Regions from separate parts of the Homo sapiens genome. Here all the other regions are linked to region 1. The links come from fine-mapping of genetic effects on gene expression. A gene starts in region 1. Each other region holds a variant in brackets. All regions are shown on one strand. Distances are between the middles of the regions.

Region 1 (8,188 bases):
ATGTACACAATGGATGCTTGACAAGGAAATAGCTGAATGGAAGCCCAGAGATCCATTTAGATATTTTACTGATGTCTGAAACTTACTGGAGCGAGAACTAAATTCACTTTGTCTCTCAGACTAATTTTTTTCTTGTTTCCCAAACAGTGTTAAAGGTACCACTACCTTTTTCGAAACCCAGGATTCCAACTTTAACATCAGTGCTGAATGCTCCACTTATTTTCCTTCCATCTCTGCTGACTTTGTGTCCATTTCTACCATGTCTACTAAGAAAGGCTTTTGCTGGCCCATGAGTAGGCAAGGCCCCGCATCTCTACATGCTGCATACAGACCCCATGATCTTTCTTGTGCTCTTGGTTATGTTGCTCCTCTCTCTGAGACCTCACAGTGACCTGCAGATCTCTCATCATCACCATCTCTGGGTTCTTCCCACTACCCAGTTCCAGCTGATCTGACCTTATCACCACCTGGATTGGTCTCAGGTGCTTTCAGCTCTAGCTTTTGATTATGCCACTCTCTGACTCAGGTGCCTCTTCAGCCTTTCTAGATCAATCCAACCAAGGTCATCACTTCCTTCAAGAACCAGCACAGAGTTCTGTCTCCTCTAATATGCTGGCACCAACATTAATCACCTCCTTGCTTTTCTATTTCCTTGGCAATTTGTATAATCTGTATAATAGTATCATTTGTCCTTGCTTAGGAACTTTGTAGTTTTCAACACTGTCTTCCCAGGCTAAATTCTCCAAGAGGAGACTGAATTTTCTTAGTAAACAAACAAATTCTTTTAATAGTGATGAGAATTGCTTATGCAGATAGTTGTTGAGTAAACAGCTGAATGGACACCATCTTTAATATGGAAGAGGACTATGAGGCTATTATGTGGATACGAGCCCATTCTTCTGAAAAGTATCTTTCAAGCCAGGCAAAAATGGCAGTTCACTTGAATAATTTGTATGGTAAATAGAGAAGACTTGCAATTTGTTTTAGGTATTTACTTCTAGACATTTAATGTCAGTGTACTATTAAGTAAGCCTAGACTGAGTTTAGCTTCACCACTTGGCTATGTAGCCCTAAGCAAGTTAGACACTCTCTCTGATCTTCAGTTCTACCATTAGTGGAAGGAAGATGATGCCACTTACCTTACACATTGCCGCAAGGATCAAAGGAGATCGTGTCTCCACAGCGGGATACTCAGAAATAGTTATTATCTTGTCCTTTAACCATGAATTATTAGGCATACAAAATTTAAAGGAGAATAGGCCCAATCTTAGCACAAAAGGGTAACATATCTGGAAAATTTGTTACAATAATAATGAACCCTAGTTAGTGGTCTTAAAACTATCATGTTTAAGCCACAGGGAACCTTCTCTGGTAAAAATGAGGAAGATTTAGGTGATTAGCAAAGGGAAGGGCATAGAAGATAAGCAACTGGAAAAGAAGTAAAATCTTTTATGAGATGATTATAAAAGTGGGTAGTGAATTTAATTTTAGCTCCCTGAGAAGGCAGTAAGTTTAGTCTGAATAACAAAACATTTTCATTTTAAGATAAACAGCACATGCCTTCATTTTTCTTGCTTAATTTATCTTCAGCAGAGGAAGCAACTGCATTTAACATGAAGTTAACAAAATATTTGTATTAAGCTATTTTATTTATAGTGGATCTGAACAACAGAAAGGAACATTTGCCAGATGAATACTAACATTCTAGGGATAATGTGGTACCAAAAAGTGAGATAATGTTTATTATCAGTAATTGACATTAGTTCATTTTTAAGAGTTTTCTTTTCAAAAATTTTTCACATTCTTTCGAGTAGGATTACTTAATTTTAAACTGGGAGCAGTAGAAAAATGTGCTTTTCATATTCCAATCCAGGACAAATGTCATTTGCCTAACACTGATTAAAGACAAGAAAACACAGAACAGAGGTGCAAACAAACTCACCAGAAGTGAAGTCAGTACTGTCCTTCTCTGTTCTCACCACAACTATTTGTAGCAGTGGGAGGGGTCAGGTGATCTTTTTAATATTTTATTAAACATTGGTTACACCTATGCAACTAACTAATCAAATATTACTTGGAAATATCAGAGACGCTAATTAGAAAATGCAAAACGGAGTTGCACACATTACGTTTTAAAACCACTTTAGCCAATATGCATCCTGGTAACACATAAACTGTTGTCTGCCTTTATTTATTAGAATTATCAAGTTATACAAAAAGAATGAATATATAGCCTTTATAAATTCAATAAAGGCCACTTACTTGAGAATGCATGTCATGTACACAAAGAAGGCCATGTGTCTTTATGGTGTTTAACGTTCTTACTTGACTTGAGTCTTATTCTGCACGTATTGGTTTTATCTGCATGTGGTAGGAGTCCAGGTTTTCCAGTTCCTTACACCCATTAATTTGTTGAATGTTTTGGAAACATGTAACTTTCTTTGGTTTTAGTTTTTGAACGGATCCCATTTTTAGCCCTGCACAAATGATTACATGTTGGTTCCTATCTTAGGTGGTGAGCCCAATGAACTTTTGAAAGGATCAAGGGGGCAATTTACAACGAATCTTAGATATGAAGCATGAATGAAGTGTTGTTTAATTTATCACCCTCAGCAGAGTATAGCCCAAATACACTGGCAGGGGTGTGTAAAGTCTTTTTTTGTCACAGAATCCCGCTGAACCGTACTTATTTCAAATTCCATCACCCCTTACCGTGTACGTGATGGTTTCTTCGGTGTCCTGTGACTTGACCAGCGCCAGAGTCAGCATAGTTAGGAAAAGGGCTTTCAACATTGTGAATCTCAAAGAAAATACAGGACAAACTAATGTTTAGTATCTGCTGCGGGGAAAGTAACAAAACTTTAGCAGTGAGCACAAGCGAGGAAAGGAGGGTGGGAGAGGCTGAGGCTCCACCATACTCAACTTCCAATCTGCTTTCTCATCTCCCCTCCCCCTCCTGAACCTTCTCGGTAGCCAACGAACGAGGCAGCAAAGACGTAAAAACTGCTGTAGAATTGCATTTCACGTTACTCCATCCTGCTACGCTGTTTACATACAAAAGACATTCAGCGTGCATTTTATACTGCACCTACAAAGCAGGCTGCAGAAAGAGGGGGTCGAAAGGAAAAAACAGTAATCCATTTCAAAGGGGACGGTGCATTTCCTGCCCCCCAGTCCCACACCCCGGGGGATGGAGGTGGGGCTGCAAAACTCTGTTCTCTAGAACGTTAAGGCTTTCCCAGTATACTCACCTTGAGCTAGCAGAGTTCCTTGCACAGCACAGCAAAAATACCTGTGAGCCAATATGAATTGCCTTGGCCTCAAGCTTTTTATTTTTTAAACAAAATAACAAAACAAAACTCGGAGAGCAATCTTCCAGTTCTAGTAGAATACTAGACCTTCTCACATGTCTCAGAGCTTCTCACATCCCCCAGCACAAACTCTCAAAGTGGCATTTCCACGCCTTTCTCTGCGCACAGCTTTGTTTAAAAGTCCCAGGTTGTGTGGAGGGGCAGCCCAAAGCGACTGATTCTCTTTTGTCTTATCAGTCTGGGTCCCCGACACGCTACCTTCGGTTTCAGGCTGCCTAGGACCGGAACCAGGGATCGCACCGCAGCCCAAGGTACCAGTTTCGGGCGGGCGGCCTGGCCCGGCAGGGAGATGAGGTCCCCTTTCTTAACAGCAAGCTAACGCGGCGGTCCCCTGGAGCTGCTCAGCGTCCCAGCTTCTAACCAGCTCCTATGGAATCCAGGTGCGGCTTAAATCTCGCACACTGGTCCCCTAAACTTTCAAAACCACGTTTATGGGCAAAGCCCTGCCGGCTGGTTGTCGGCGCGCACACACATGCCCATCCCAACAGATGTCACCCGAGTACTCGCACTTGCTGACAGATCGCATTCCGAGGCTGCACACCTCCACCTCCCTCTCTGCCCGAGACACCCTGCACAGTCCAGGGCAGTTCTCGGGTACTCAACACCCCTCAGCTCACCCCACCTCACTCTCCCGCGCGCGGCCCAGTGAGTACTGGGCTCGCTCGGGGCGACCCCCCGTTGGGGGCTCCTACCTGTGCGGCCGCGCTGCGCTCCGGGCCCGGGCAGCGAGGGGAGTGCGCAGGGGAGGGCAGCCCCGTGGGTCTGATCTGGCGAAGTCCGGCAGCGGCCGCGGCGGCAGGAGGAGGAGGAGAAAGGGAGGGAAAGGGGGAGGGCGAAGGGGGGCGGAGGAGAGAGCTGAGGGAGGCGCGAGCGCTGAGCCCAGCGTTGCGAGCCCGGCGGTAGAGCGCGCAGCGCAGCGAGGTCCGCGCCCCCTGCTCCAGGGGCCCTCTTTGCCGCCCCCGCTTGCCCTCCCTTGCCAGCTCCTCGTTTCCCAGACTCGCGGGGACCCCACGCCAGAGAGGACACGTTGACATGTGATGTCCTGGATGCGCTTCAGCCTTGGGGATGCTCCCACTCTCTAGTGCGTTTTCTTCTTCTCTGAGGAGGGGAACACAGCATCTCCCTCAGAGACCAGAGGGTTCTAGAAACTGCTGTTACTTTTTTTCCCAATAAGTGAATGCTAGGAGAGTAAATTAACCCCCATTCATAGAACTGTTTCCTTTACCTTTTCTTTCGGATTTTTTTTTTTTTTTGAGGAGGTGTCTGCTTCCACAAATGGAGAAAAATGAGAATTCATCCATTCAACAAATATTTGCCACCTACTGTGTGCTTAGTGTTGGGAATAGGCCAAATAGAACTTGCACTAACAAAATTGTGAGGTGGGGTTTGTTTTATGGTCTCTCAAACCTCCCTTTATGATAACAAGTGTTGGCAAGAATGGAGAAAAGGGAATGCTTGTATGCTGTTGGTGGAATGTAAATTAGTACAAACATGATGGAAAATTGTATGGAGGTTTCTCAAAAAACTGAAAGTAGAATTATCATATGATCCAGCAATCTCATTTCTGGGTATTTACTGGGAAGATTTGAAATCAGTGTGTTGAAGAGACGTCTGTACTTTCATGTTTATTGCAGCACTATTCACAATTGCCAAGATATGGAATCAACCTAAGTGTCCATCAAGGGATAAATGGATAAAGAAAATGTGGCATATATGTGTGTGTGTATACAAATATAATATATATTATATATATAAACACATATATATATAAAATATGTACACACATATATTTTAGATATATATGCGTTTTTAAGGCTAAATAGTATTCCATTGTGTGTGTGTGTGTGCGCGCGTGCATGTGTATATGAGCCCATTCTTCTGAAAAGTATCTTTCAAGCCAGGCAAAAATGGCAGTTCACTTGAATAATTTGTATGGTAAATAGAGAAGACTTACAGTTTGTTTTAGATATTTACTCCTAGACATTTAATGTTAGTGTACTATCAAGTAAGCCTAGACTGAGTTTAGCTTCACCACTTGGCTATGTAGCCCTAAGCAAGTTAGACACTCTCTTTGATCTTCAGTTCTACCATTAATAGAAGGAAGATGATGCCACTTACCTTACACATTGCTGCAAGGATCAAAGGAGATCGTGTCTCCACAGCGGGATACTCAAAAATAGTTATTATCTTGTCCTTTAACCATGAATTATTAGGCATACAAAATTTAAAAGAGAATAGTATTCCATTTTATGTGTCTGTGTGTATGTGTGGAATACTATTTAGCCTTAAAAAAGAAATTCTGTCATTTGTGACACCATGGATGGAAGTGGAAAACATTATGCACAGTGAAATAAGCCAAATGTAGAAACACAAATACCACATGTTCTCAAGTATCTGAAAGTAACTTAAAACAATTGAACTCATAGAAGCAGAGAGTAGAATGGTGGTTACCAGAGGCTAGGGTTGCAGGGAATGGAGAGATAACAGTCAAAGAGTGTAAGCCTCAATTAGATAGGATGAATAAGGGTTGGGTGCAGTGGCTCATGCCTGTAATCCCAGCACTTTGGGCAGCCAAGGTGGGCAGATCACCTGAGGTCAGGAGTTCAAGACCAGCCTGGCCAACATGGAGAAACCCCATCTCTACTAAAAATACAAAAATTAGACACGTGCCTGTAATCCCAGCTACTCGGGAGGCTGAGGCAGGATGATCGCTTGAACCCCGGAAGGCAGAGGTTGCAGTGAGCTGAGATCATCCCTCTGAGTGACAGAGTGAGACTCCATCTAAAAAAAAAAGAGAGGAAAAGTTTGATTTTTTTAAAGTTCAATTGCACGGTGTCGTGAATAAAGCTGATAATTGAGTACTGTATATTTCATTATCACTAAGAGAGTAAATTTCAAATGTTCTCATCACAAAAAATGTCAAATATTTGAGGTGATGGATATATTAATTAGCTTGGTTTAATTATTACACATTGTATTAAAAAATCATAACACCTTGTACCCTATTAATATATACAACTATAATTTGTCAATATATAATAAAAAGTCTCCCTTTTTATGGGTTTCTTTTTTCATCTATAGCTTCTCTTTTCTTCACTTATTGACTTAGTGAAATCTCCAATACTGCTCATTCAAAGTTGGGCATTTCACTTTCACCTTTCATAGTGGAATTTCAGGAATCTGGAGAGAAAAATCTTTTTTTCTGTTTTTATCAAATCATACCACACAAATTGCAGTTACCTCTGAAGGCTCCAACTCTAAAGTCATACTAATAGCTTGCTTCCAAGGCAGCTGTCTTCTAAGAAGCAAATGGCCAAATACAATTTCATGAATGAGAAAACTTACAAACTGAAGGGGTTAAAACTTTGACTCTGTCCTTGAGCAGGAGGCAGAGCTCAGGAGGAGAGGAAAAGCTCCTTTCCTTTCCTGCTGACTCAAGGTGGGAGGGTGGTAGCGACTGCAGGAGAGGGAGGTTATCAGGTGGAAGCTGCTCTCTTTATCTCTGGGGTATCCAGTGTGGGTTACCTAGACATTGCCAGTTTGGTAGCAAGCCACACAGTATTGGACAAGATCAGAGGGGAGGTGTACAACCCTCCCTAAACCTTACTTGAGTATACAGAGTTTTGGTAATTGTATCAAATATTTTTACTATCAAAATTCTAGTGTTTTCCCCCAAGTCATTAATGACCTCCAGATTTTTTTTAAATGGATCTTTACTTTTTGTACAGTAAGAAGATCTGTGCACATGGTTTTTCCTGTTTCTCTTAAACTCTTTCTACCTGTTCCCAGCCACTTTTCCAGAAAAATGGGGTGAAAACTCTCAAATTTATATCTCCAGCCTGGAACTGTTCCTATATATCCAGCTGCCAACTTGCTATCTTCATTTGGACATCTAATGGATGTTTCAAACTGAACACAACTGCTGTTATCATCCCCCAACCTACTCCACCCACCTTCACCATCTCAGTTAAAGCAGTTTCATCTTTCTATTTGCTCAGATTCAGGACCATGGAGTCATCCTTGATTTCTCTTTTTCTGAGATATCCTGCATTCTATCCTTCAGGAAATTCTGTTGGCTTCACCTTCATGATATATCCAGAATGGAACCACTTCTCATCACCTCTTTTGCAACCACTCTGGTCTAAGCCACCACCATTTTCCAACTGTATTATTGCAACATCCTCCTAATTGGTCTCCTTGTTTACAACCTTGTTCTCCTGCAGCCTTTTTGCAGTGGGAGTTCATATGAATGAAATCATAGAGTAAATACTCTTTCGGGTCTGACTTCCTTCACTCAGCATGTTGCTTGAGATGCATCCTTGTTATTAGGTGTATGAGAAACACATTCCTTTTTATTGCTGAGTAGTATTCCATTGTATGTATATACCCTGATTTGTTTGTTTACATCTTAATAGATACTTGGATTGTTTATGAATAAATCTGTTACGGACATTCACTTCTAAGTCTTTGCTGGGATATGTTTTCTTTTAGATAAACGCTTAGGAGTGAAATTGCTGTCATATGGTAGGGGTATGTTTAACAGTATAAGAAAGTGTCAAACTGTTTTATAAAGTGAGTGTGTTATTTTATGTTCTTACCAGCAATATGTGAGATTCAATTTGCCTGAAATCCTTGCCAACTTCTGGTATTGTCAGTAATTTACAATGTTAGCCATTCTGGTGGGTGTGTAAGTGGTATTTCACTGTGGTTTTATTTTACATTTCTCTGATGTCCAGTGATGTTGAATTTTGCTTTTCGTATGCTTATTGTCCATCAATATATTTTATTTCAAATTTGTGTTCATTTCTTTATTTTTT
Region 2 (8,188 bases), 140 kb before region 1:
GTTGGTTGTGTATATCCTCAATGAAAGAGAAGATGCTGAGATAGTTCTTCAACATATTCTAGAAAGCAGCTCCCTAATTTGTGGGCAGTCACTTTACCAATGACCTTTTTGCACTAAAGGTTACTGTCCCCTTCTTTAACTAGGCAGTTTCATCTTCCTTCCGACTATGGAAAGCTTGGGTGCTTTTGTTAGTGCTATTTGAGGGAGGAGGTACCCACAAAGTCAGTTCCTGTCTGTGGCAAGTTGAAGTTAGAGATCACTGTTGTTTGGTGTCCAATGGGTGACAATGCCAAAATTCAGAAATAGCTGGCAAAGTCCCTGCCTCCTAGTGGGAGCCTAGAGGCTGGTGGCTTGGTGTTCTAGCTTCACCAAGCTAGAGTTCAGCTCCATTATACATCAAGGAGGATTTTGTGGTCTGATCTGGAAACCTAATATCCCCTCATGACATTATTTTAAAGGGAGAATGCAACCAGAGTGCCAGATAATAAACCTTTAAGGAAATTTTTGGAACTTAATGCCTCCTTAAAATAAGACAGAGTTTCACTTTTAAAAAATTCCCTGGAGAGAATCAGAAAACTTTTTTTTTGAATTATTGGGCAAAATCTAATACTTAGCCAAGGGCAATTGATTTTTATATTTTCTAAATTTTCTATAATGAATATATATTTTTTATTAAAATTTGTTTTTAGGAGAAAGGAAAGACATTACAAGGAAAAGGAAGGCCATTACAGGGAATATAATAACATAAATATAATAAATTATATAAGGGCCCATTGCAGTAGAGGCAAGGGTGGGAAATGTGCACACTGCAAGGAGCGACTCACATGTGATACTGAAAATCATTGGTGATGCCCTCAGCCTCAGCCTGAAAAGGTATGGACACAAATGAACAGATTAGCAACCCAGCTTACACTGATGTGGTTTCTTGAACCTCAGCAATAATCTTTCCTCTTGGAAGTGACCCACTGGACAATGCAGAAGGTGGCCAGGGAATGTATTTGCAATCAGGCTCTGCCCTGGACTCATTTTACCCTCTTCATTTCTGTTCCGCCACTGAAGCTGCTGAGTACAGATGCTGTCATTTTACACTAGGGGTCCTCTTTTTCCATCATCTCTTCTAGACATTCAGAGGATTAATAGTGAGTCAGATAAAATCTTTTGAGGAACCTGCTAGTTTATAAATGAAAAAGAATTAAAACTATCTCTAATAGTTTGCATTCCTACAGCACTTTATAATTATCAAGTATTTTTGAAATTACAAATTTAATGTACAATACATATAACATAAAAGTTACCACTTTAACCATTTTTAAGCATATAGTTCAGTAGTATGAAGTACATTCACATTGTTGGCAACCATCACCACCATCCATCTCTAGAACTCTTATTGTCTTACCAAATTGTAACTTTGTACCCATTAAGCAAATCTACCAAGTGTTTTCTTACACATTATTTCATGTGCTCTTCTTGATATCCCTGAAAGTGGGAGGGAAGATATTATTAGCTCAGTAGAGCACAGTGGTTAGTGGGGCAGGCGCTGGAATAAGACTAGCTGGTTTAAACCTTGATCATCAAGTATTGTTAACAATAGAACCTATCTTGCCAGGTTGTTGTGAGGATTACATGAGATCATTCATAAGGTGTTTAGAACATAGCTATAATCATCCCCATTTCGCAGATAAGAAAAGTAAGACTAAGAGACCTTGAACATTTGCCAAAACTCACAGAATTAAGAAATGCTAGCCGGGTGTGGTGGCTCATGCCTGTAATCCCAGCACTTTGGGAGGCTGAGGTGGGCAGATTACGAGGTCAGAAGTTGGAGACCAGCCTGGCCAACATAGTGAAACCCTGTCTCTACTAAAAATACAAAAATTAGCTGGGCCTGGGGGCCTGCGCCTGTAGTCCCAGCTACTCAGGAGGCTAAGGCAGGAGAATCACTTGAACATGGGAGGCAGAGGTTGTGCTGAGCCGAGATACCACTGCACTCCAGCCTGGGCAACAGAGCAAGACACTGTCTCAAAAAAAAAAAAAAAAAAAAGCAAGTGGGAACCTGAATTGTGGTTGATTCAGTGTTCTTTCCTTTATACCCGTTAATAATTAATTAAGTCCCTGCTCAATACTGCCCACAGAAACACTTTTGTGTTCCTCAAAAACATGTAAAAATCTAGATTTTAGGCTAGCAAAAGGAGGCGATTTCACTTAAATATGTTTTGTGTTTTTGACTTCAGAGTCAAGGCCTTGCAAATTTCCTTATCAACCCTGACATCCCTTGGGAGGTGCTGACAGCACTGACCTCAAGGCATGTTGTGAACCCAGGAGAGCATGAGCTGGGGATGGGGAGATTACAGGAAGGTAGATGAAGTCAAGCAGGAGTGACAGAAATTTGGTCCAGCTCCAAGCTGGTATTGGAGGGCCAAGGGGAGCCTCCTTCAGGAGGATTGGCATAGGAAATAATTTTAAATTGCAGAATAGAAATGCTGATGGAACAAGGCAAAGCAGGCTTATGCCAGGATGAGGAATAGGGTAGGATCCAGGCCCAAGGCATAAGTTTGCAGAGATGTGTGTGTGTGTGTGTATGTGTGTATGTATGTATGTATGTATGTATGTGTGTGTACCTGATCAGGTACCTGGGATATAAGGCAGGAGTCTCTCCTCACCCTCCTGCCCCTCTCTTTATACTAGTGTCTGGGGATTTGAGAAAAACAGAGGAACTTCTCCACCATTACCAGAGGCTGGGTAGAAGGGGGCAGAAAGGTGATCTGATCGCTCTCTAGTTCAGAGGTTGGTGAGGATGAGAAAGAAAGGCTGCTTTTGATAGCCTTTTGAAATGCCCAAGCTTTGGCTCTGAGGCATTAGAGTTCTACCAATTATTTCCAAATTCCTAGGGTTTAGGTATTTAAAGCTCTTGGTCAGGGATTACAGGAATGAAGTGGGGTGGTGTTTATATAGCTGAATGCTCCCTCCAGAGCTGGGATGAGGCTAGGACAGGAGAGGAGATGACACAGGTAAGACTTGCAAGGTGAACTACATATTTCCCTACCCATGTCTCATTGTTTTCCCTCAGAAATCATCTTCATAAACTACTTCTTTCTTTTTCACTTTCTTTCTTTCTTTTTTTTTTGAGAGGGTGTCTAGCTCTGTCACCCAGGCTGGAGTACAGTGGCGTGATCTCCACTCACTGCAACCTCCGCCTCCCAGGTTCAAGCAATTCTCTCTGCCTCAGCCTCTCAAGTAGCTGGGATTACAGGTGCCTGCCATCATGCCTGGCTAGTTTTTGTATTTTTAGTAAAGATGGTGTTTCTCCATGTTGGCCAGGCTTGTCTTGAA[C/T]TTCTGACCTCAGGTGATCCTCTTGCCTCGGCCTGCCAAAGTTCTGGGATTACAGGCGTGAGCCACAGGGCCCGGCCTACCTCCTTTTTTCTGTAGTATTAACCTGTTTTTCTCTGTGGCACATTTATTTTTGCATATAAGCATGTTCAATATTCTCAAATAATATGAAACAAACAAAGTCAACAAAATAACCCCTCATCCTTGGCTCCCCATCTTCTTTAAAGTTGCTGTTCATTATTCTTTTCTCCTGTATGGTCACACTTCTTGAAAGAGTTGTCTCCATTTTCCAGTGCCCTTCCTCACTTCTGAGTCTCACCTCAGTCCACTATAACCTAGCCTCTCACCTTCCCCTCCATTGAAACTGCTACTGCAAATTGCAAATGTTCTCCACAATCCCAAATTTCATGGCCGTTTTTCTCTTTTTTTGATGATAATGACCGGGCTTCTGTTTTTCACTACTCTATCCTCATTACCCACTAGCACATGCCTGGCACATAGTTGGTGCTCAATAAATATTTTTTGAATTGAATTGATCTCTCTGTGGTGTGTGACACTTTACCACTGAAGGGGATTAGACTATGCCAACCCAAAATATGCCAGTTTGGCACAGGGATCATTTTCAGCTGAAGAAAATGGAGAATCAACAGATGCAAAATGAAGTCCTTCTAGAGTTCCCATTATCTGACTAAAAGCAGAAACTTCTGAGAACTGAGGATTGCCATAAATCCCCTTTCTTGGGCAAATTTTATGACTGTGAGGAAGACGGCAAGTTGGCACCAAGATGGACCTGCACAAACAAAGCTTGATAAGATAGCCCTTATTTTCCATTAGTTTTCTCTATATATTTACCTCCCCAGTTTGCAGCCCTTAGAAGCCTAAAAACTTTCTTCCTTTGTCTTGTGCCATCTCTGCAATTTATCTTTCTTGTTGTTGTTAAAAACGGTATATAAACTCTCGTCTGAGAGAGTTTGCTTCTTCGTTCTTCACTTTTTTGGTAGGAAGATCCCTGTGTCATATAAAAGCTACGCATCAAATACAATTCATATGCTTTTGCTCTCCTGTTTGTCTGTCTTTCACCAGTTTAATTTGTAAATAAGTTGGGCATGGTGGCACGTAGAGATGGGGTTTCACCACATTGGCCAGGCTGATCTCGAACTCCTGACCTCAAGTGATCTACCTGCCTCACCCTCCCAAAGTGCTGGGATTACAGGCATGAGCCACTGTGTCGGGCCTCTCAGGCTTCTTTTTAATCTCTTCCCTTGGCTTGTTCCCTAAAGGTCAGTAGACTACAGGGTCTGTTTTCTGACCTCTGCTTTTCTCAGTCTGTAGACTTTCTCTGGATAATCGGATCAAAAGCCATGGCTTCAACTATCTGCTCTGAGATCATTATCTTCCAAATCTATATCTGCAGCTCAGACCCTATAGTCCAATTACGTGATAGAAATCTCCAGTTCGATGCCTGCCATGTACCTCAAACTGAACATATTCAGAACTGAACTCATCATCTGCCCCCCTCAACCTGCTCCCCTTGTAAGTGATGGCTCAGTGAATAACACCCACCATGCACCCAGTTGTCCAAATCAGAAACCTGCAGCTGTGTTTCCTTCTCCCTCATCTCTCACATCCAGTAAGTCATGGAATCCTGACAATTGTGCCTCCTTAATGGCTCTCAGACCCATCTCTTTTTCTCTAACACCACTGCCATTTCCCAAGTCCAGGCCACCATTGTCTCTCCTCTCCATTATTGCACTGGCCTCCTCACTGCTCTCCTTGGTATCTGGCCTTCCTCAGCCTCATTGCCTCTTCTCCATCCTTCTTGGCATGAATAACTCCTAGTCATTCCTCAAGTGCCACTCAATGTCACTTCAATTGGGAAGCTTCGCTGACTAAGCCCTCCCCACCCATGAACCCCAGGATATATTGAGTGTGTCTGCTATATGTGTTCCAAGCATTTAACTTGTCTTATTATAATTGCTTGTTTAATTGCTTAACTGTACCACCAACCCACTAGATTGTAAATACTCTGTTTTTCCCTGCACCTATTTCTAGCACCTTGCGCAGGGCCTAGATCATATAGTATGTAGTAGCACGCAGCACATGGTAGATACTCAAAAAATATTTGTTGAACGAGTCAAAGAAAATACTCGCTAAACTGAAGAACTACCATTTTGTAGTTCATCTAAAAATAAACAAGGATCAGTGGTTTAGCAAATAAATCTATGGTGTATGTGTGTGTAAACCTCCCACTCTCAGTTCATGTGGTTGATGAACCTCAACTATGTAAGTGAAACCTTATTTTCCAAATAAAAATATTCAATGTGAATGGCAATGTCATAATTTTTGGTGCTCATGGCAACAAACAGCTCAACAAATAAAATAAGCAAAGAAACAAAGGTAACAAAACCCCATTTATTCATCCAGATCTTTTCTGTTTAACTCTGCAGTCTTAACAGTTCAATAATTCAACTGCAAATTTGTTAAGATTCATTGCTTTCCAAGTCCATCACATGCTCAGGCTTATTTGCTTGTCTCTTTCTGCTGGGAAACTATTTGTCTGTGGAGTAGCCCAGAAAACAACTTTTTTTTCCATGTTAATTACTCAAAGATTAAGAAAGGTAAAATAAGAGTTATGTAACAGAGGGTTTGTTTTGCTCCTAGGATTACACAGTAATGAACATGCATATTTATCCTTGGGAATGCTTACAATGATATTATCTGAATGATGTATTCTCTTCTTGTATCCCTATGAATAAGGTACTAATTTCCATCTTCCCGTCCGCATTAAATAGTCTGAGCCCTCTTGCACCTGTAATTAAAATTTTGAATTATCTGCTATGTATAGAGCACTGTGAGGATTGCCAGAGCAGTTAGATGTGTCCTATATCCTTGATCCCTTTGGAAGAATGTGACCCAAACCCTCATGAAACACATAGGAGAGGGTATGAGAAGTAATTGTAACTAAAGCCTGTCAGGCCAGAGTTCCTTCCTACTAATCACGAACCGGTGTTTTTGGACTTAATATAATCACTTGGGTTAAACTTGAATACTTAAGTCTAAAGGTGAATGTTGTAAAAAATGAAGAGTTGGGGCAGTTGCTTTTTTTCTACAGTTGTAGTCTCTAGAACTATGGTTGTATAAATATTTTTATAGTATTACAGCATGCACATAAATCTACTTTAAGGAAATAACTTCATTCCTTCCTCCCTTCTTTCTTTCATTTTATAAAAAAATTAATATTTTCCTTTTTTTTAAACATCAAAGTAACGAGTACAAGTTTAAAAAGTCAAATAATGCTAAGAGGCTTACAGCAAAAACCAATATTCTCTTAATCCCTCCACCTCAAATTGCCTCGTCCTTCTGAATACTCCTACCTCCCTCAGGTAAACATTTTCAAAATCTTCACCACTTCTAATATCAAAACACTGTGCGAATACTGCTATTGCCTTTTTAAAGCATTATTTATTTTGGCCTTTTTATAGCTCTTTTCTTGAATCCATTCTTTGTGAAATAGTACCATCATAAATTTTGGTTGAATCTATACTCATCAATTTATTATAACCATTTTGTAGTTAAATATGTACATAGTTTGTATGTGGGAATATATATAATATATGGTTTGTACTGAGTATATATAATTATATATACTATATAGTATGTATATAATTTGTGCTATATGTATTATCTATATAGTTTATACTATATATTTATACTACTTAGTCATAATATGTGCATACAGTTTGTACCATATATATATTATAATATAAACTATGTATAGTTTATACTGTATATACTATGTAAAGTTTAAACAAGCTAAAGCATAGTATATATGTATATGTAGTATATAATTTATGCTATAATTCAATTTCTTATACAATTTCTGTTTTCTTGGAGTTAATAATTTTTTTATTTTTTCACTTGCCTGGTTTTTATATTTTTGGAAACTACAAACTTCTTTGTAAAGTAGTTCTCATTACAGCTTTCTACATGGTAAAATTTGTAAGATAATCTGCACATTCCATTTAGGAGGAGTTTATTCTTACCTTTTGTACTTGTGTTTCGATTAGGATTGGTTGCTTTTTGAACCTGCTACACATGTTTATTAGGTCTTCGCTTTGATACCATCTTGAGAATTCTCTTTATTTTATTTTATTTTATTATTATTATACTTTAAGTTTTAGGGTACATGTGCACAATGTGCAGGTTAGTTACATATGTATACATGTGCCATGCTGGTGTGCTGTACCCACTAACTCGTCATTTAGCATTACATATATCTCCTAATGCTATCCCTCCCCCTTCCCCCACCCCACAACAGGCCCCAGAGTGTGATGTTCCCCTTCCTGTGTCCATGTGTTCTCATTGTTCGATTCCCACCGATGAGTGAGAACATGCGGTGTTTGGTTTTTTGTCCTTGCGATAGTTTGCTGAGAATGATGGTTTCCAGCTTCATCCATGTCCCTACAAAGGACATGAACTCATCCTTTTTTATGGCTGCATAGTATTCCACGGTGTGTATGTGCCACATTTTCTTAATCCAGTCTATCATTGTTAGACATTTGGGTTGGTTCCAAGTCTCTGCTATTGTGAATAGTGCCGCAATAAACATAGGTGTGCATGTGTCTTTATAGCAGCATGATTTATCATCCTTTGGGTATATACCCAGTAATGGGATGGCTGGATCAAATGGTATTTCTAGTTCTAGATCCCTGAGGAATCGCCACACTGTCTTCCACAATGGTTGAACAAGTTTACAGTCCCACCAACAGTGTAAAAGTGTTCCTATTTCTCCACATCCTCTCCAGCACCTGTTGTTTCCTGACTTTTTAATGATCGCCATTCTAACTGGTGTGAGATGGTATCT
Region 3 (8,188 bases), 200 kb before region 1:
CCAGGATGCCAGAAACAGGAATGGAGAGGAGGGACCAGTGACTAAGAAGAGCGGGAAATTATTGCCTTTGAGAGTGTGGCTCAGGTCAAAGGTTAAAGATGGTTGGATTACAAGGGATTGAGAAGATGGTACTGCCTCTATAGAAATAAAGGCGTCTAATAGAAAAACAGGTTTATACTGAACCCCTAGATCTGGCTCTGAACATTTAGGTACGTGCTGTACTAATTTGAATCCAGAGAGATCCATGTAGTGGGTCAAGACACTTTACAAAGTGCAAAAGTTAGCTTTACGAAATGTCAAGTAAATGGAAACAAGGCCAGTTCTTTCTTTTTCTTTCTTTCTTTTCTTTTCTTTTTTTTTTTTTTTTGAGATGGAGTTTTGCTCTTGTTGCCCAGGCTGGTGTGCAATGGCACGATCTTGGTTCACTGCACCCTCCGCCTTCCAAGTTCAAGTGATTCTCCTGCTTCAGTCTCCTGAGTAGCTGCGATTACAGGTGCCCGCCACCACACTGGCTACCTTTTTGTATTTTAGTAGAGACAGAGTTTCGCTATGTTGGCCAGGCTGGTCTCGAACTCCTGACCTCAGGTGATCCACCCTCTTTGGCCTCCCAAAGTGCTGGAATTACAGGCATGAGCCACCGTGCCCAGCCACAAGACCAGTGATTTCTACAAAAGTCTTATGTGTTTTCAAACGAGACCAGCATAATATTTACAACTTGAGGTAATCTCAAGAGTTCACTAGAATTCTATATTAATAAATTAATAGATTGTTAAAGTGCTTTGGATTCTATAATGTAAGTAAAGATACTTTCTGCCATCATAAATAATTGATTGAGGCAAGCAAGAATCATCAATGGATGCTTAAACTAGTGGGTGAAAATTCGAAGAGTAACAGATATTTACACGATCTAAAATTTAGCTTTCTTCCATTTTTCTTCATATTTGTTTTTAATGCACAAACCATTCGCCAGCTTCAAAGAGTTAAAAGAAAATAATGGAAATCTCATTTATTGTTCAGCATACTGGCAGCCTTTGGACACTAGGAGAATTCATTTCCCACTAGAGGGCGCTCAGGTGTTGCTTAATTCACCTCTTCAGGTTTTTGCGACCTCCTTTGTAACTCAAACTGTAAAATGGAATTTTAAGTTTTATATTTGTGGGTGAACTTAACTAACATTTTAGGATTAATGTAGCAACAACATTTTAAAGCTTTGGGGTTCATATTAAAAATAATTACCCAAATGACAGCAATCAAAACTCCCTCCAAAAATAAAAAATAAAAAATAAACTTCCACCATCCCCCAAATCAATTGTTTTTGTTTTCCAGCAAACATTTCTGGTCCTGGTTCATCGCAGGTTTGAGAGGCACGGTTTCTTCTCCATTATTTACCTACTCTAGAACCACTTTATAGAAGGTGGAGGTGGGGTGGGTTGGCCAGGGTGAGATAAACTCTCAGTTTCAGAATGTGGTGCAAGGCGCTGACACTCTTGTGAGTCCTGCCTTACATTAGACTATGCGAATGGTTCTCAAAGTGGCAGCCCCCCCACCAAGCAACGTCAGCATCACCTGGGAACTTGTTAGAATGCAAATTCTTGGGCCCCACCCCAGACCTATTGAATTAGAACTTCTGAGGGTGGACCTATTGGTCTGTATTTGAACAATTTCTCTGAGTGATTCTGATGAATGCTACCGTTTGAGACCCACTAAGCTAGATACTTGGTTTTTACAGGGCAAACTGCTTTTGGGCAATCAGAGCTCAGGTTTTATCGGTTGGTGCCCTCTCTAAGAATCAGGAACAGACTCCCTCCAGGCTAGGTCTCAGACCCTTAGGCAAATGGCAGTCAGGGTCAAGGTGGTTTTCTACCTGCTTCAAGTTTCTAAAGAGAACTTGTCTTTCACCAGTCTCAGCAGGGGCACCAGTCCATAGACCATTCACATATAGACGGCACCATGAGAGTCAGTTAAGAATTTATGGCCAGGTGCAGTGGTTCACGCCTGTAATCCTTGCACTTTGGGAGGCCGAGGTGGGTGGATCACCTGAGATCTGGAGTTTGAGACCAACCTTGCCAACATGGTGAAACCCCATCTCTACTAAAAATATAAAAGATTAGCCAGGCATGATGGCAAGTGCTTGTAATCCCAGCTACTTGGGAGGCTGAGGCAGGAGAATCGCTTGAACCTATTGGGGTAGGGGGTGGAGGTTGCAGTGAGCCGAGATTGTGCCATTGCACCCTAGCCTGGGATTTTCTTTTAATCCCAGCTCTCCCGCCTAATAGGACTGACTGTGAGCAAGTTACTTAACCTCTCTTTAAATTTCACTTTCTTTCTCATTTGTAAAATATGGGTGATAATAATCATCTAACAGAGTTAGTGTGAGAGAAAGGAATACAATCAGAAGGTAAATTGTGGAAATAAGGCACCATTATCTGTATATTACTGTTCCAGGAAATGCTGTAGTTATAGGGTAGTTCTAGCCACATGATAGGGCTAGATACACATTAGTTCCCTTTCTTGCAAAGCTTTGTACCTTTTGAGTATTCAGGACCCTTTTAAATTGTCAGAGTGGGCTGGGACTGGTGGCTTATGCCTGTAATCCCAGGACATTGGGAGGTCAAGATGGGAGCATTGCTTGGGCCCCGGTTTTCAAGGCTGCAGTGAGCTATGATTGTTGCCACTGTGCTCCAGCCTAAGCAATAAATAAATAAATAAATAAATAAATAAATAAAATGAAATAATAAAAATAAAATAAAAAAATAAAAAATAAAAAATAATCACAGTGAATTATGTTCTTGTACTGTTTACTTCCAGCTTCACACTCCAGCTCCTGGATATCTGGAGTGGTTGGGAGAGGGTTCTATTTTCCCTCCTTTTCTCACACAGGGGTCTTTTGAGCCAGATTTTTTATTCTTTTCCCCTCCAGATCACAAAGCTTATACTTTTATTGCAGAAAATCTGCAATATTCAATAAAGCATAAACAAGGAAATGAACATCACCAGTCCTTCTCCAGAAGAAAGCATCATTAATGTTTTGGAGTATTTCCTGCTAGACTTTCCCCCCTCTGCTTATATAAAATTGCTATCATAACTCACGTTCAATTTTCCTTGCTGCCTCAGGGCTTCTTTAGATGCGATTCTCTTGGCCGGGCACGGCTTTCTCTGGCTTTGGTTGCTCCTTCTTTCCCTACCCTTTCCTCCCATCCCAGCCCACCCGGATGCTTCAGATAAGGTGAGGTCTCCCTGCTAGACGCTTTCAAAGCGTGCTGTGCTCACTCTGGACAGCGTTCCTCATGGTCTGTAATTATACATTTACCTATGTGATGGTGTGAGTTGTCTCTGTCCGTGGCTGAACTGCAAGCTCTGGGAGAGTAGGAGCTGTGTCTGATTTACTCACAACCGGATGCCAAGTGCCAGCACAATGCTGGACACATAGAGTGCCCGCAACAAATCATTTTTGAATGAGTGAATAAGTAAATGAAGAATTTTGTAAGCATTTTTTCCGCACTGGACATGATTTTATTTTATTATTTATTTATTTTGGGCGTGATTTTAACTGGTGGATGTCCGGGGATAGATGAGGTGTTCTCTCAGGATTTCAGATAACTCCATGGATGTCTGAAGCAGCCTGTTATGGCGGAAGGATTCCTGTTCTGGAACTAAAGAAAACCGCGTCCCGCTTTTTGCTTTACCAGTTCCTCTGATCTCGAGCAAGTGACTGAGCGTCATTTTCCTTAGTTACTCTGCTTCTCTCCCAAAGAATCTCACACATTAAATAAAAAAGTGCATGACAAAGCCCTTCTCAACTGCAAAGGTCCATAAAAATATGTAGAGAAGGTTGTTCAAAAGATATTTTGCTTTATAGATAAATGGAGCCACTTGCTAATTAAATTTGCACTGAGGCACTAACTTTGAAACTTAAAATTGATTGTTTCCAAGACAATCTCCCGTTTCAAAGCTTAATAATTAGAAATAATTGTGAGTCTAAATGTCTTTACTAGCCAAAATACATTAACTACTACTTTATTTCTTAAGGGCAGACATTGTAGAGTTTGTTTCCATTTTGTAAAGATTGCAATAAATAATTATGATATGTTGTGACAATAGAAACTTAGATTTATGTTTCTTTCAAATTTCATTGTGCTGAGGTAGTCAAGATATTTTTTGACAGACTAGCCAATGAATGTAAATTACATAGATTATTTTAAGAACAAACCTTAGTTTTAAATTTTTTCTTTTTTTAATAAAGTAAGCTTTTTACTGATGTATAGTGTACATACAAAAGAGTGCTTAAATCATCAGCATTTTGAGGGATGTTCACAAATGAAATAGGCCTAATGTAATCAACAGTAAGATAAAAAAATAGAACATGCCCAGTATTTAGAAGCCCCTCCCCCTATGCCTTTCCAGATATCACCCCAGGAAGAAAACCTTTATTCTGACTTCTGTCGTCAGAGACTCGTTTTTCTGGTTTTAAGCCTTTACAAATGAAGCCATACACTGTGTTGTAACCGTTTATGCTTGGCTTCTTTTACTCAAAGTTATTCATCCATTTTGTTGCCTGTAACAGTAGTGTGTTATTCTTTTTTCTTCTTTTTTACACTGCAGGAATATGTTTATTTTTGAGATCTATTGCGCATCATGATGAATATAGTTAATAATAGAACATTGTACATTTCAAAATTGCTAACAGTGTACATTGCAAATGATCTCACCCCAAGAAATGTTAAATATGTGGGGTGATGTATATGTTAGCTGGGTTGACTCAATTATTTCACA[A/T]TGCATTCAAAGACCATAATAGCACTTGGTATCACATTACATATATAGAATTATAAATGGTCAACTTTAAAATTTTTCTTATTTATATTTATTTATTTATTAATAAAGACCGGATCTTGCTATGTTACCCAGGCTTGTCTTGAACTCCTGGGATCAAGTGATCCTCCAGTCTTGGCCTCCCAAAATGTTGGGATTACAAGCCTGGGCCACTGAACCCACCCAAACCCTAGTTTTTGAATATACTCTATACCTTATTCAACAAGAAAGGAATATGGTAAAATTTGGAATTTCCAAAATGGAGCTAATATCTTTGTGATATGATTAATATTCATATTTAAAGGTTGGATGAAAGAAAGTTTTCCACCAAGGTCTTGGATGCCAAGAATTAGAATAAGTAACCCCTATAACTAAGTTTTTTTGATTGATTCTGTAGTTTTCCATTGTATCTTAAATAATTTCCTTTCTGTTTTAGGTTATATGATGGTGCTTGAAATGTATATACATTGAGGACATAAAACATCTTGGAGAACAGATAAGAATTGAAAGTATGGTAGAAAGAAAGACCAGTCTCTTACTATCTGTGAAAATTTGTGAGTTCATGGATAAAATGAGGCAGTGTTTGCTGATTTTATCTTTTAATAACTCCAACACACTCTACTGAAAAAGAAACATTTTTCTTTTCTTTCTTTGTAACACCAATTAGTAAACACATAGCATTTTAGAAGAGGAAAATACTTTAAAAGTTCATTGTCCTTGTTTCATAGATAATATCTAACATTTACAAAGAAATTTACAATTGCTTCCAGATAACATGATTTCATAGAATCCTGAGAACTCTATTATTACCCTCAATTTAAAATGAGGAAGTGGAGACTCAGAGGACTTAAATGACTTACCTAAGGTCACAGAGATAAACATAATAATGATGGATAATATTAATTGAGCACTTACTCGATGCCAAGCCTTCCTCATGCATGATCACATTTAATCCGCAGAATATTCTTATTACCTCTTACATAATATGTGACAAGCTAGCATTATAAATCTGTGCTAAGAAACTGGCATAACTGACTTTTTTTCCTGGATGCTCTTCTATAGACACAACCTAAATATTAAATAAAATCAATATGATTTTATGTATTTAGGATAGTATCACATTGTGTATGTATGATGTTGATTGGTTAAGTAAATAGTATTATAGTATTCTCATTTTACAGATGAGATATTATGGACATGGAGAATTAAAGACTCCCATAGTAGTACTGTGCTAGCTGACACTGATGAGCAGAGGCAAGAATCCAGTTCTTTTCACCACACTAGCTTCCTTTTCTCTGAGATGTGTCTCAGAATGTGGAGTGGGCAATTGGTGACTTGGATCCAAAGCTAAGGACAAAGAGGCACCAAGAATCTCACATTCTGAGTATTGCAGGCCAAGTACCTCCTCCAGGTTTAGTAAGAGTCAGGCAAACTGACTGGGCATTCCCCTAATCATCGTCTGAGACTCAACCACTTCTTATGCCCAATCCATCTACACTTTTGACTAGACAGGGAAGACAGGCATGTGATGAGAGTGTCAAGTCTTTGGTGAAAAGTACAGTGGCTCCTGCTTTGAAGCCAAAGACTGGGTGCCCTGAGGACCATCTACAGAGAGTGGGATTAAATGAGAAGAATGACATCTTATTTCTTAGCTCACACCAGCTGATCTGACCTCAGTGCCTGTGAGAGTAAGGGAATGGAGAATTGAGATAATGAAGCAGAGAGAAGTGAGGCAGTGGAGCAGGCTGCACCCATCTGGTGCTATGACAGTGCTGTATGGGTATTCCAGGGGTCAAGAAGCCACCATGGAAGTAGCCGGACTTGATTTGACCTGCCAGTACTCTACTCAAAAGGAGTTGGGGGGAATGCCAGGGGAAGCAACTGAGGGTGTAGTAGAGGAGCTGGGTGGAGGGTGCTCCCACAGCAGGAAACTCTGCCCTGGGGAGACTCCTGCAAGTCCCCAATGTAGCCCATGGAAGAGCCAGTGTTGGGACACCCACCACACAGAGACTAATCGACATCACCAGCCAAGAGAAGACCACAGCTGCAGCACTGAATGAGACACTGTTCCTTTCTATCTCTGCATCTACTACAAGCCACCACCCCCAAAGCCCACAACTCAAGAGGGAATGAAGGTGGAGACTGTACTCCTTTTCCATTTCAGGTCCTGGCCACAAATGCCTGAGCTATCTACAGGAAGGGAGGATTGGACTTCTTCATTTCAAAGCTGTGAGAGAGCTGCGCAGAATGTTGTTAAGCGGTGAGAAAGGGAGGTTCAGTGGAGCATGGTTAAGGTAGTAATTGGGGGAAAAAAGGATACTTTATACTTGCACTCTACTGAATTCAGGTTGTGTAGAATAGACATTACATATGCCTCTCTCTCTGTATATAAATATAATAACCAATATTTATGTATAGCTTTGCATCCTTTTCAAATATGCAGAAAGTCTTATGGGATGATATTATCAGGAACCAAGTAGCATTTTAAAAATTATTGCATATCCAAGTGATGAAATTAAGGAAACATGGGCCAAAAAAAAAAGGTAACCTCCTCTTTTCTTCTGAGTTTTCCTTTTGCCCCAGCAGATGTGTTGGCATCTGACCTGCCGGGATGCTAAGACATCCTGACTGATAGACCATTAGATTCAATCAAACAGTCAGTATTCAATTAGTACCTTCCATGGCAAATACCATAGGAATGAAAGAGTATATAAAAAATGGTCCTGGCCAGGTACAGTGGCGCACACCTGTAATCCTAACACTTAGGGAGGCTGAGGCAGCTGGATCACTTGAGTCTAGGAATTCGAGACCAGCCTGCACAACAGGGTAAAACCCTGTCTGTACAAAATATACAAAAAATTAGCTGGGCTTGGTGGTATATACCTGTAGTCTTGGCTACTCAGGAGGCTGAGGTGGGAGGATTGCTTGAACCCAAGAGGTCGAGGCTGCAGTGAGCCATGATCATCCACTGCACTCCAGCCTGGATGATGGAGTATGATCCTATCTCTCTCTCTCTCTCTCACACACACACACACACACACACACACACACACACACACACAGTTCCCTGCTTTCAAGGTGGTGACACTCTAGATAAACGTACACTCATTAAAGATAGGGCAGCATATGACAAGTGCCACATGAATCAAAGTGACAGCAAAGGTAATGTATGGCTTTAGATTACCTAGAGACCCTCTTGCACTGGTTGCCTGACTGGAAAAGGTGAGGCTCTAATGGTGCCATGAAGGATGGGTGAGAATAAGAGTGCAAGGCTAAAGGGCTGCTACATGAGCAAATGAGCAGAGACCAGCGTAGCTGGGAAGTCACATTTGGGGACACTGAGTCCCCCTCAAAGAAATTCTGTAACAGCATCCTTTGC

Which allele goes with the higher level. Alleles are on the strand shown, and positions count from the first base shown. SD is a standard deviation of normalised expression in the study named.
In carriers of allele C in region 2, the expression in thyroid of the gene that starts at base 4,135 in region 1 tends to be lower than with T alone (small effect, 0.39 SD a copy in GTEx).
With allele A in place of T in region 3, the expression in fibroblasts of the gene that starts at base 4,135 in region 1 is higher (small effect, 0.26 SD a copy in GTEx).

Evidence for each region.
Region 2: its variant is fine-mapped to the expression of EFEMP1 in thyroid (GTEx, PIP above 0.99).
Region 3: its variant is fine-mapped to the expression of EFEMP1 in fibroblasts (GTEx, PIP 0.98).

What each region holds. Positions count from the first base shown.
Region 1 is chr2:55,919,648-55,927,835 of GRCh38, forward strand. It overlaps EFEMP1 (EGF containing fibulin extracellular matrix protein 1), which reads right to left and starts at 4,135. Exons shown (of 12, transcript NM_001039348.3): 1 at 4,064-4,135; 2 at 3,252-3,292; 3 at 2,713-2,800. The coding sequence starts at 2,793. RefSeq lists an enhancer at 3,695-4,194.
Region 2 is chr2:55,780,645-55,788,832 of GRCh38, forward strand. No RefSeq gene overlaps it. Among named protein-coding and RNA genes, the nearest start is that of PNPT1, 91 kb to the left of the region's middle. The variant C/T (reference allele first, on the strand shown) is at 3,328.
Region 3 is chr2:55,717,308-55,725,495 of GRCh38, forward strand. No RefSeq gene overlaps it. Among named protein-coding and RNA genes, the nearest start is that of PNPT1, 28 kb to the left of the region's middle. RefSeq lists an enhancer at 6,267-6,768. The variant A/T (reference allele first, on the strand shown) is at 4,774.